Regions from separate parts of the Homo sapiens genome. Here regions 1 and 2 are each linked to region 3. The links come from fine-mapping of genetic effects on gene expression. A gene starts in region 3. Each other region holds a variant in brackets. All regions are shown on one strand. Distances are from middle to middle.

Region 1 (4,249 bases), 130 kb before region 3:
TTACCCTGCCAGAGCCCTGTACTTGTTCAGCAAAGCCTCAGGGGTGCAATATCTAACCCATGGGTCCAAATGGCAGGTTCACGGCCCCAGTGGGTCCAGAAGGTAGGGGATCTAACCAAATAGGATTATTCTTCAATCATAAGATTTACTGGAATTTGCCTTGCCAAGTTTTAGACTTGCTTGGGACCTATCACCCCTTCCTTCTTTCCTAATTTTTCTCTTTGGAATGGGAATGTCTGTCCTATGCCTGTCCCACCATTGTATTTTGGAAGCATATAACTTCTCTCGTTTCATGGTTCAGAAGTGGGGAATAATTTTGCCTTAGGATGAATTGTACCTCAAGTCTCACCCATATCAATGAGCCTTTGGACTTTACAGTTTAGAGTTAATGCTGAAATAAGCAGGACTTTTGGTGCCATTGAGGTGGAATAAATATATTTTGCATGTAAGAAGGACAAAAATTTGGGGGTGCTGGGCAGAATGTTAATGAGTGAATATGTTCTAGAAAAAGCGCATTGAAGGAGAGAAAAATGTGCGAGAAAGAGACCAATCCATGGTGAAAAGTCAGTGGTTTACACTCCAGAGAAGAACTAATCAGCTCTGTTTTTATATAGCATAAGTTTAACATGCTGGGAAATGCTCCTTTGCCTTGGTTGGTGGTCAGGCAGAGAGAATTTAGAAGAAAACAAAGGTTCATTTAGCACTTGGAGGCACCAAGTATTAGCCTCTTTTTTTTTTCCCTAAGATACTAAACAAAAGTGTGATGTCACACAGATCTTACTGAACTGAATAACTGTGGGATTCCATGGTGACCTTAACATTTGAATTCACACTCCTACGCAATGGGTGGCTTTTTTCAGAATAAAGAGGTTTTTAAACACATGTGCTACAAAGCCCAGCAAGATCTCAGGAAAAGAATATGCGACAATTGAAGAGGGTGCCTCCACAGAAAAATTAATTATATGGTGACTTATGGATGAAACACACACAGTTGCTGCTCAGGCTGTAATATTATCCATGTTTAGCTAATTCCCAAAGAACAATGAATCACATATAAGTTGTAAATACTGGGCTTTTTGTTTTATAAAACCCCAAACAAATGTGTTACCATTTTGTACGTGAATAAGAACTTATATTAATAATCTCTTGGTCTGAAAATAGTACTGATAGGTCAAAAAAAAAAAAGGACAAAATATCCAGGAAAGATACACCCAAAAGAAATATAACCTAGAAAAATGAGGAAGTTTAATGCATGCTTTCTTGTGTTTTTCAATTCTTTCTTGCTAAAAAAGAATTATCATTATCACTTACAGAATTCAAAAGACTCTCCTCAGTTTTTTACAATATGCTGTGTCAAAGCAAGACCCTGATACCCCAACTGCAGAGTGTACTCCAGAGTCTGGCTCCTAGAGCATTTCTGATACCTAGAAAAGCAGACAGGAAAGCACATAACTATAAAACTAAAGCATTGCAAACCAGTCAGTGTGGCTGTTTAAAAAACATAAAGTCCTACACTGGAAACCTCTAATAGTCAGAGGTGGGAGAGGGTCTATAATCTCCAGCCCTGTACCTCACTTCCAAGAAGTCAACTGCAGTAAAACAGATTGCAGTAAAACAAATTTCAGACCACCTTCTGTCAGATGCAGACATTTATTATTAAAGAGTAGGTGTGAACTTTCTGGAGCAGCACAGTCCCTCTCTCTGACCTAAGACATAGCCAGCAGCCCTATGTATGGAACGCCCACTTCAGAGGGGACTCAAAGTCAGCATCTATAGTCTGATCCTGATCCTCTGAGGCAAGGGGGTCTGCAGGTCCACTAGAGTGCAGACCTGAAGTTCCACTCCATTGATACATACAGCCTGGTTACTGGGTATCTTCTCCTGTGTATTTATTCGGGCCAAAGTATTGGGTCCTGAATCACCATTCCAAGCAATCATAACCTAAATATCACTCATTTCAATTTCACTAATAATGATACATTATTAGTTAACTAAGCCTAGAGCATTCATTTTGAATAAGGAATTCATCTACTAAAAGCTCTCCCTAAAGCGCTGACTATAGGTAACTTGTATATACTCTGGACAATAGTATTTAGGATAAATTATCCCACAGACAGTATAACCAGAGGAAGCAACACTGGAGATTGGGCTTGAATCCAAACTTAATTGAAGACCTTCTAAGTGCTAGGTCTTTTGGGTTTAAGATAACTAGGCAAAAGGAAAGAAAAGGAATGGAATGAAAAACAAAACAAAATACTGTTGTCGTCCTCCATAATTTTACCACATATCCATGATAATAACCAATATGGCTACAAAAACTGAGTAGCAAAATCTCAGAAATTGATCAAAGTAAATCTGATCTGTGCTTCTGTGTGGATGGGGATGGTT[TC/T]AGACAGAATCTCTCTTTCACACAGTGGCCAGATCCAGTGCTCTCTCATCTCTGAAACTTGGTCCCCCAAATTTGGAAAAAATTATTCAGAAGATAGAATATCAAGGCAAAAATTCTAACTTAATTAGGTAAAGAAACTCATGCAAAAGTGAAATTTGCATGAAGAAGCAAGGTTAAATCAACTGGATTGCCCAAGGTTGACAACATTCAGCACCAGCAAAGAGAGTTATATCAACCTAAACAAGAAACAGACAGTCTTCTGTTGAAGGCAACATTCAGATTTGGTGAAGCACTATAGGCTGGTGACTATATATTTGCTAAATTTTTGTGTTGTGTCAAAGACCCCAAAACAATTCTTGGTACTCACACAATGACAATCAGAAAAACACCAGTAGACAGGAAGCCAGATCTGATATTGAAGGAGATGTGACAACCTTCCCTGTCAAAATATTTACAATAATTAAAACAAACTATAAATAGAAATAGTTATGAAACATAAAATGATAAAATATAATGTTATAAATATAAACAAATGATAAATATAAACAAAAAAGGAAACAGAATGTCAACATGGTTGACACTCTGCTTATAAAATACAGAAACAGATTTTTTTTGTCAGGAGATGAAATTATCTACTTTAAAACCTAGATGACAAGCAGATGGAAAAATAATTCTCTTTTAATCCCCGGCTAGCTGACTCATAGCCAAAAGGATATGGTAATATCAGTTGACAACAGAGCCACCCACTAAAAACATACAACTCACTAAGGAATAATGACTTTGCAGAGGAAGTAAAATTACAGATGTAAGAAATTAGGTCAAAACTTTCTTTTCTAACACCACCAGAAACCTTAAACTACTCTCTAGATAAAATCAACCAAAAAGCTGAATAAGTACATATGAATAGTTTAAATTTTAAGTGTATCACTGAGTTAAAAACAAACAAAAGGATTTGTGGGACCTCCCCATTGCTGCACAGAAAACTCAGGAGATAAGCCAGTGCCAAAGTCACCTCTGAGGGTTTCTGCCCAACCCTGAACACCTGAGTTTCCTCCAGTGACTGCACAATATCCAGGAAACAGGTGATAATGCTTAGCACTTACTCAGAAAAGTGGGAAATCTAATAGGATTTTCTGCCAGCAGTATAAAGATGAAGAAGAAGCAAAACCTGTTACCTAGGAGGAGATAGCAAGGAAATTTGCCTGTCTCAAGCCTTGTCATAGAGGAAGATGAGGTGGGGATGGAGAGAAAAGGGAGAATTCATAACCACAAAATTGCCCTCATAGAGATTTACAGTCTGAATTTACAGCACCTCTATTGTCTGTCAAATCTCTGGTAGAGAATAAAATTTAAAGAATTGGATTTAAATGCCAAGATGACTTTCAGACACAAATAAAAATCTAGGATAGAAATTAGTAAACAGATTCAAACAAATTGTCCAAAATGTAGCCCAGAAAAAATAAAAAACCTATGAAATTAAAAATAGGTTAAGATAACACATCTAGTCAGGGCTCCAAAAGAAATAATAAAGGAAATTGAGATGAAGCAAAATTAGAATAGATAAAGGGTAAGAATTTCTCAGAAATGTTGAAATACACTAGTCATGAGAATGAAAAATGGCAACTATAAATTCAAAATCCAAATGCAATTCCCAAAATCAATAAATTTAACCAAACAAATATAAAATTTCTGTATGGGTTAAAAAAACTCATAATTAAAATGAAAAAACAACAATAAACTAGTAAGAAAAGAGTTAAGGAGAAACAGAAAAGCTTAGGCAAATAGGAAACACATAATAAAATAATAGAACCAATAACATATATTAGTGATCATTATACATTTAAAATAATTCTTCATTTA
Region 2 (4,249 bases), 120 kb after region 3:
ATCATGCCACTGCACTCCAGCCTGAATGACAAAGCAAGACTCTGTCTTAAAAAAAAAAAAAGATGAAGAAGATTAGTGTCCCTCACTCAACCCCAGATAGTCCAACACCTCAAAGTCCACACTTCCCCTCCAGGGTCTTCAACATAACCCTCATCGGCATCAGCCCCCATCCCACTTACGTTTCTCTCAGCACTCACTCATTAAAGACGGTATCAGGGCTTTTGCTTGTACTCTCCCTTCTCTAACTGAACCCTTTCTTCCGGCTCCATTCTCCATCCTTTGGGTCATTTACCTCCCACAAACACAAGCTCTGAGTTGAAGGCCCTTCTCCCTTTCTCATTAATATTTCCATTTTCAGAGGGACCTAACAAGGATGTCTGCCTCTAGACATTTATGTCTAATGCTTACCATTACTGTTATAGTGGGAATGTTAGGACAGGTAGAGATTTTAGCATATCTCAAATCATGGGAAGAAGCTATTTTCTCAGTTATTGATTTCAGAGAAGCCTCTACCCCTTTGGGACTAGAAACCAGGTCTCCTAACTCATAATCCAATTATCTTCCCAGCTCACCTGCTGATTCTTGGATCAGACTGAGGCTTAAGTCTGACAGTCTGATTTTTCCTTGCATTAAAAACACATTTAAAAAAAAAAACCTTCTGATTTGGTTACCTAAACTCAGTGACCATTTCTGATGTTTATAGCTGGGTATCAAATAATTCAAATGGCATTTTGAGCTTTAAACACTTTCTGTAAATATCAGTACTAAAAAATGCCTTGACATCACTGAACTAAATAACAATTATTTTAGTGTTATTTTTGTTTTTATATTTTATACTGTGTTTGATCTTTGTAAAGCCAACAGGATTCAGGATCTGAGGTCTAGGTCACTGAAGAGATTGCATCAGCATCTACATCTACCCTTTGATAGGCCCCATTGAGGGAGAAATTCACAAGGAGCCCAGACGTGTTTACTTTGCTGTTATCCAGCACTGCAAACAAGCAACTGGGTTCTGTGATGACCCTTTACTGCCTAATGTTTAAATATTGCCAGCGACACTGGTCCAGTTTTAGCCTGATTGTGCCGTTAGGTTTGTTACTAAGATGCATTGTTTTGCATTCTAGTACACTACTTTCATATCTAAAATGAAATCGAAAATGAGAGGAAAATATTTAACCATGGTCAGGTCCTGTGCCACAGTCGAGTAAATATTCTGTGTGCTTCCAAACATCATTTGCACACTTACCATTTTATAATTAACATGTTTTGAAACTGAGATCATAATCAATAACAAACCTAAAAGATCAAAGTTCTTCTTTCAGTCTTTTTAGTCAGATTTTGCTTTGGGAACCTGAGGAAAATACGATCCCCATGATTTGCTCTCTAAATAATGTAGCATATCAGACAGATAACCAGTCATTTAGCTTCAGTTATCTGTCCTAACTACATTATATGCAAAACAAACAAACAAAAAATCATATCTACTGTGTAAATCCAGATCTCACTACTGGAGATTCATTCTTCCTATTGTCAGTTGAATTCTCTGTCAAATCTCCAAGCAAGCAAGCCTCATATCAAGATGACTAAGAAGTTTTATATTCACTAGTTGGGACCTTTGATCTGTGGCTCTAATTGGAAGAGACATTTTTAAGATTACCCAAGCTCCAAAGTTCATTTTGGTGTACAGAGCAAGGAATGATTACTACATGGTAGAAATTTTTTAAAGAGATAACTTGGTGGGTCTTCAGCGTTAGGGGTGCCGTCTACATCAAAAGATTATATTCCTGTGCCTGCTTTTTTCTTTACTTTTAGAGTTCTACTGTTTTACAAAGGATCGATGGACCTAAGATTCAAATGCTTTATCTTTTGATAGAGTTTTTACTGCAATTGCATATGGAGCTATGGCCATCGGA[G/A]AAACGCTCGTTTTGGCTCCTGAATATTCCAAAGCCAAATCGGGGGCTGCGCATCTGTTTGCCTTGTTGGAAAAGAAACCAAATATAGACAGCCGCAGTCAAGAAGGGAAAAAGCCAGTAAGCACAACTGTGATCTTAAATGTCCAAATAAAGATGGCAACAGTAGGAACTGGGGGCCACTGAAGATGGGAGGGAGAGAGGGGCAAGGGCTGAAAAACTAACCATTGGGTGCTATACTCAGTACCTGTGTGACAAGATCATTCATACCCCAAACATCAGCATTACGCAATATACCCAGACAACAAACCTGCGCATATACTCCTGGATCTAAAATAAAAGTTGAAAAAATAAAATGTAACATAAATGAAAAATAAAAATAAAAAATAAATGTCCACTTATTAAATGAAGGCTGTCTTTGGAAAACTCTGCAAAAGATAATGTCATAGTAACATAAAGAGTTAAAAGTTTGTGCAAAATAATTTTATGGCTGCAAACGGGGAAAAGGGGTCTTGTCTTAATCAAATTTTTACCTCTACAACTAAAATTTATATTTCATATTTTAAAATATATGCTTTTAATTTATATGCCTGATGCTATGAGAATGTTCTTGAAAAAAAAGATTGATTCTTATACTGAATTCTACTGAGAAACTAAAGTTTTGATCTTGGATGAAGATTCGTATTAAGGTTTATTTGTTTTTTTTTCTCTGATAATATATGCAAAGTAAATAATATTCTGCTGCTTCAGACACCATTTTTCATGGGAAATATATTTACAAACAAAGGGGAAAAAAAGGAAAGTATACCTATTAAATTGATGCACACAAACAAATTTAGCCTCAAACTCTAAAAGACTGTGAATATTAAAAGAGAAATAATAGGTAGGGTGTATAATTTCAAAATAAATCTCTCAATAATAGTCTTATACAGCTGGGCGTGGTGGCTCACGCCTGTAATCCCAGCACTTTGGGAGGCCGAGGTGGGTGGATCACGAGGTCAGGAGATCGAGTCCATCCTGGCTAACATGGTGAAACCCCGTCTCTACTAAAAATAAAAAAATTAAAAAAATTCAGCCGGGTGTGGTGGCACGCACCTGTAGTCCCAGCTACTCGGGAGGGCGAGACAGGAGAATCGCTTGAACCCGGGAGGCGGAGGTTGCAGTGAGCCGAGATCACGCCACTGCACCCCAGCTTGGGCGACAGAGCGAGACTTGCTCTCAAAAATAAATAAATAAATACAAAATAAATAATAGTCTTATACATTAAATATACATTCAATTTTAGTACTTTTCTAGACATTTTAATTTTTAAAATAAAAATAGTCCATTAGGTATATACTTAAATGTTTTTAACTTATAATTATTTCCCTCTAGAATTTTAATAGATTTATATGTATGACAGCTTAAAATACAGCATTACTAGAGCTACACAATGGTTAAGAAGAATGCCTGTTAGTGACAGAAATAAGACTATCTGGAAATTCTCAAAATAGAATGCTTCAAAGATACATCACAGTCAAAATAAGATTTTGTTCTTGTATTTTGGAAAGTAAAGGATGTAAGAAGCTTTTTTTTAATTTTAAGATTTATATGTATAACAGTATTGCTACTCCTATTTCTTTCTGCAGATTATAACAGAGGAATTGAGTATCTCACTGATCTATGTCCTTACAGAACCATAGGCATGGCATAGACTATGGAAGTGTTTCTTATAAAGGCTATAAAATTAATGAATTTAATCCTTATTTTATTTAGTATGTAAATGTTTCTGAATATCACTCTACGCTTTTAAAAATTAAAATCTGGGCAGGGTGTGGTGGCTTACACCTGTAATCCCAGGACTTTGGGAGGCTGAGACGGGCGGATCACCTAAGGTCAGGAGTTCAAGTTCAGCCTGGTTAACATGGCAAAGCCCCATCGCTAACAAAAACACAAAAATTAGGGTGTGGGGGCAATGCCTGTCACCCCAGCTGCTCGGGAGGCCGAGGCAGGAGGATCGCTTGAACCTGGGAGGCAGAGATTGCAGTGAGCCGAGATCACACCACTGTACTCCAGCCTGGGTGACAGAGCGAGACTCCTTCTCAAAAAAAAAAAAAAAAAATTAAAGTCTGGTCAAACAAAATTGGCAAATATTGAAATTCCAGCTGGGTGATAGGTATGTGGGCCATTTATTAAATTTTTCTCTCTATTTTTATACTTTTGGAGTTTTTCATATTAAATAGAATTAAAAATCGTAAGAATAAATTTTAAATGTATTAAATTTAGAAGTTTTCTAGAATACCTCTGTGAGCTATTATACAAAATACTTACAAGAGCATACATAAAAATAATTGAATTCT
Region 3 (4,249 bases):
ACAATCTACACAATGGAAGAAAATATTTGCAAACCACATTTTGAATAATGCGTTAACACCCAAAGTATATAAGAAACTCATACAACTCAATAACAAAAAGACAAATAACCCCATTTAAAAGTAGGCAAAGACCCAAATAGATATTTTTTCCCAAATAAGACATACAAACAGCCAACAGGTACATGAAAAGGTGCTCAACATCAGTAATCATCAGAGAAATACAAATAAAAAACACAATGGGATATCACCTTCTAGCTTTAGAATGGCTATTATAAAAAAGATAAGAGGTAACAGGGGTATGGAAAAAGGGAACCTTGTGCACTTTTGGTGGGAATGTCAATTGGTACTGCCATTATGGAAAAGAGCATCAAGTTTCCTAAAAAAATTAAAAACAGAATTGCCATCTGATCCAGCAATCTCACTTCTAGGTATATACCCCAAGGAAATGAAATCAGTATTTCAAAGAGGTATCTGCACTCCCCTGTCCATTGCGGCATTATTCTCACCAGCCAATATATGGAAACAACCAAAGTGTCCATTGACACATGAATCGATAAAGAAAAGCAATATTATTCAGTCATAAAAAAGAAGGGAACTTTGTCATTTGTGACAACGTGGATGGAACTGGAAGACATTATGTTGTGTGAAATAAGCCAGAGATATGTGTGAAATCCAAAAAAAGTCAAACTCCTAGAAGCAGACAGTAGCATGGTGGTTACCAGAGACTAGGAGGTGGAGGAAATGGGGAGATGTTGGTCAAAGGGTACAAACTTCCAGTTATAAGATGGGTACAGGATGGTGACTACAGTTAATAATTCTGTATTGTATATTTGAAATTTGCTAAGAGAGTAGATCTTAAGCGTTCTCACCAGACACGCACACACACAAACACGTAAATATGTGAAGTGATGGATGTGCTCATTGCAGTAATCATTTCACAATGTATATGTATATCACATCATCATGTTGTAAACCTTAAATATAGACAATAGTATTTGTCAATTATACATATTAAAGCTGAATAAATAAAATAAATTAATTAAAATTATATAAAACTCAAAATTCAGCTCCCTCACTAGGCACATTAAAAGCGCTCAATAGCCACATATGTGTAGCGGCTAGGATATTGGATGTGTGGAGAATATCTCAATTATTGCAGAAAGTTCTGTTGGATGGCTCTGCTCTAGAAGTAACACTTTTAGCTACATTACACCACTTCTGTGCATTTAGATGACATCATGAGATTTTTAAAGCAAAATTAATTATTCCTTCTGTGCATATGACAATTGCAAGTTTATCTCTAGGTTGGCAATTTTCCTAATTATTAGTGCCACATTTACATCTGTTTGCCAGATATTTTCACTTGGACACCAATATCAACCCAAATTTGCATATTTAAACTGAATGTTACCATTTCCCCAAAACCAATTCTGTCTCATAACTTCTCTATTACCATCTTTACTACTCTTTTGTTACAACTTTTAAAAGTTTGATCGCTGAACTTATATTTTTTTTATTTCTTCTTCCTTGTCCTCTTTACCTACCTACCGCCTTAAAAATACCTCTCAAATAGTCTTACTTACTGCTATCAAACTAGATTTTAATGAGTCTACTTAAATCTTGTGTTTCCCCAAGTCCTTCCAGTATATCCATGGCTGTAATGTCAAATAATCAGGTTAATTGTACCAAATACCAATGGCTTTGTCTCTTTCATTCCAGAAAATTATAAAAGTTGTCCTAAAAATTGGTTCAGTGCCTTTTACAATCGTATGTACCTTATCTCTCTCTCCATTTCTGCATGAACAGTCCATCCTATCCAAACCGTTCTCATTTCTCTACCATGAGATAATTCACCTTGCATTCCTAAAACTATGCCCTTGTTCCTCCTCCACATTTTTCTACTTACTGAAACCTTAGCCTTCCTCCAGAAACTAACCTCAGGGCCATCCTCATCTGTGGGCGAAACCATTTTAGATCACAATGTTCTTCCTCAGTCTTCTTAGATACTAGAATAGTCACTCTTTGTACTATTCATCACATAACGTCTGTCTTGCCAGGTATATTAGGTTCCCCTAGAGAAATAGAATCAATAGGCCGTGTGTGTGTGTGTGTGTGTGTGTGTGTGTGTGTGTGTATGTAGAGAGAGAAAGAGAAAACACGCTCATGTAATTGTGGTGACTGGCACTTCCAAAATCCACAAGCCAGACTAGAAGGCTGGAAATTCTGGCAAAAAATTGATACCTTGTATCTGAAAGCTTTATCCTATCCTCTTCAGAAGACTTCAGTCTTTTCTCTTAAGGACTTCAACTGACTGGATGGGGCCCACTCAAAACAGCATCTAAGGAATTAAAGTAAGTCAAAGCAAAAGTATTAGAGATTATGAAAACAATTGAAGCTTGTGAAGAATATAAAACACTTCTCCATCTTAGAAAGAATAGTTTGTGGTAAAGATGGAAACAAAAATGTGTGTGTATGAAACTTTTTCATAGTCAGAAATGATCATCCTACTATTATTTTGGTCATTTTAAAGCATCCATACAATTCATATCTTCTTTCTTTCTTTCCCTGTGACAGGGTCTCACTCTGTCACCCAGGCTGGAGTGCAGTGGCACGATGTTGGCTCACTGCAACCTCCGCCTCCAGGGTTCAAGAGATTTTCCTGGCTCAGCCTTCTGAGTAGCTGGGATTGCAGGTGCCCAGCACCATGCCCAGCTAATTTTTTTATTTTTAGTAGAGATGGGGTTTCACCTTGTTGGACAGGCTGGTCTCGAACTCCTGACCTCAGATGATCCAGCCGCCTTGGCCTCCCAAAGTGCTGGGATTACAGGCATGAGCCACTGCGCCCAGCCATATCTTCTTTCATCTAACCAAAGATCCCATGTTTTCCATCCAACCAGTATATCTTAGCTATTTGTCAGATTATTCTTACCAAGGATGCTTGAACGTTAAGTGCATCTCATGATTTCTTCTCACATGGGTATTTTGTCCTATGATTTCCATCTTGGTACATGAACCTAGAAATATTTTTTAAGGCAAAAGTCCTTATAAATAAAATATTCTGTCTATTTTTACATTTTCTTGTATGTTCCATAGTACTTGCCATGATAGCATCCACACAGCTGTCAATAAGTAAGAATTGGCTGACTGATAGATTTTGTGTAGAGCAATTAAGATGTTCAGAGTTCTTCTCTCATGTTATCTACTTAGTGCTGGATATTACTACCTGATTATCTCACAAATATCTCAAACTTGACAAGTTTCAAGTTAAATTTATCTTCCTTTTGAAACATTGGGTAACAGAGAGGAACATGGGGGCAGCCATCATAGTCAACCTGTAGCTTTCCATACAGTGAGGACCTGCCAACTGGCTCACAAATTGCTTTGACCTTGTGTCGCTTTGTCTCAGTGCACTTTTCTCTACTATCTAAATAGTATTCCTTCTGCCTGGGATAGTCTTTTTGATCTTTATATAGCAACCTCCTTTTATAATTCAGATTGCAGCTTAAACATTATCTTCTACAAGGGGCTTTCTCTGACCAGATGTATATAAATACCACATTACTCTTCATAAAATTACCCTGTTTTAATTATATACCAAAAACTGACCACTCTCTAATTTTCCTTATTTATGTATGCCTTTTTTTAAAATTGTGACTCTCCCTGTAATGGAGTCTAAGCTCTATGACAGCAAAGATGTCTAGGCTGTTCAGTGCTTAAAACAGTACCTGGCACAGTATATATCTATAGAATGAGTAAATTTTTTTAAAAAATCATCTAATGAGCTTGTTTAAAATGTAGATTTTTTTCCAGTGCATTTCTTTAGATTATCATTCAGTACATGTGGGGCAAGGCCTAGGTAGGTGTCTGATATCTTTAACATGCACTCCAGGTGATTCTGATGCCAGAGGTCCTTTGACAATACTTTAAAACTGTGCTATTAACAGCAGATAAAAACAATATGTTGTCAGCACTAAGGTGTATTTTAAACTTTATTTTTATAATCTTGGATTTAGGAAGATAAAATTTCCTCTAGATAAGTAGTGCCTTCTGTTTCTCAAGGCTTTGTGCTAGATACTATATAGTCATGTTTCTCAAAATTTGATATGCATTACAAACCACTTCGACAATCTTGTTAAAATGCAGATTCTATTCAGAAGTTTTAGAGTGAGACCCAAAAATCGCATTTTTATAATGGATTAAAAATATATAATCTAACTGTATGCTGTCAATAAGAGAATCATTTTAGATC

Alleles and levels. Positions count from the first base shown, and alleles are read on the strand shown. Sizes are in standard deviations (SD) of each study's normalised expression.
In carriers of allele T in region 1, the expression in monocytes after R848 of the gene that starts at base 2,181 in region 3 tends to be higher than with TC alone (large effect, 0.80 SD a copy in Quach 2016).
For the expression in testis of the gene that starts at base 2,181 in region 3, allele G in region 2 goes with a higher level than allele A (small effect, 0.32 SD a copy in GTEx).

What was found. PIP is the estimated chance that this variant, and not a neighbour inherited with it, causes the effect. A credible set is the group of variants that fine-mapping cannot tell apart.
Region 1: its variant is the best candidate, but not a certain one, in a credible set for the expression of ABCB5 in monocytes after R848 (Quach 2016, PIP 0.51).
Region 2: its variant is the best candidate, but not a certain one, in a credible set for the expression of ABCB5 in testis (GTEx, PIP 0.55).

What each region holds. Positions count from the first base shown.
Region 1 is chr7:20,481,458-20,485,706 of GRCh38, forward strand. No RefSeq gene overlaps it. Among named protein-coding and RNA genes, the nearest start is that of ABCB5, 130 kb to the right of the region's middle. The variant TC/T (reference allele first, on the strand shown) is at 2,389.
Region 2 is chr7:20,737,110-20,741,358 of GRCh38, forward strand. ABCB5 (ATP binding cassette subfamily B member 5) reads left to right here. Exons shown (of 28, transcript NM_001163941.2): 24 at 1,874-2,030. Among named protein-coding and RNA genes, the nearest start is that of SP8, 48 kb to the right of the region's middle. The variant G/A (reference allele first, on the strand shown) is at 1,914.
Region 3 is chr7:20,613,487-20,617,735 of GRCh38, forward strand. It overlaps ABCB5 (ATP binding cassette subfamily B member 5), which reads left to right and starts at 2,181. Exons shown (of 28, transcript NM_001163941.2): 1 at 2,181-2,351.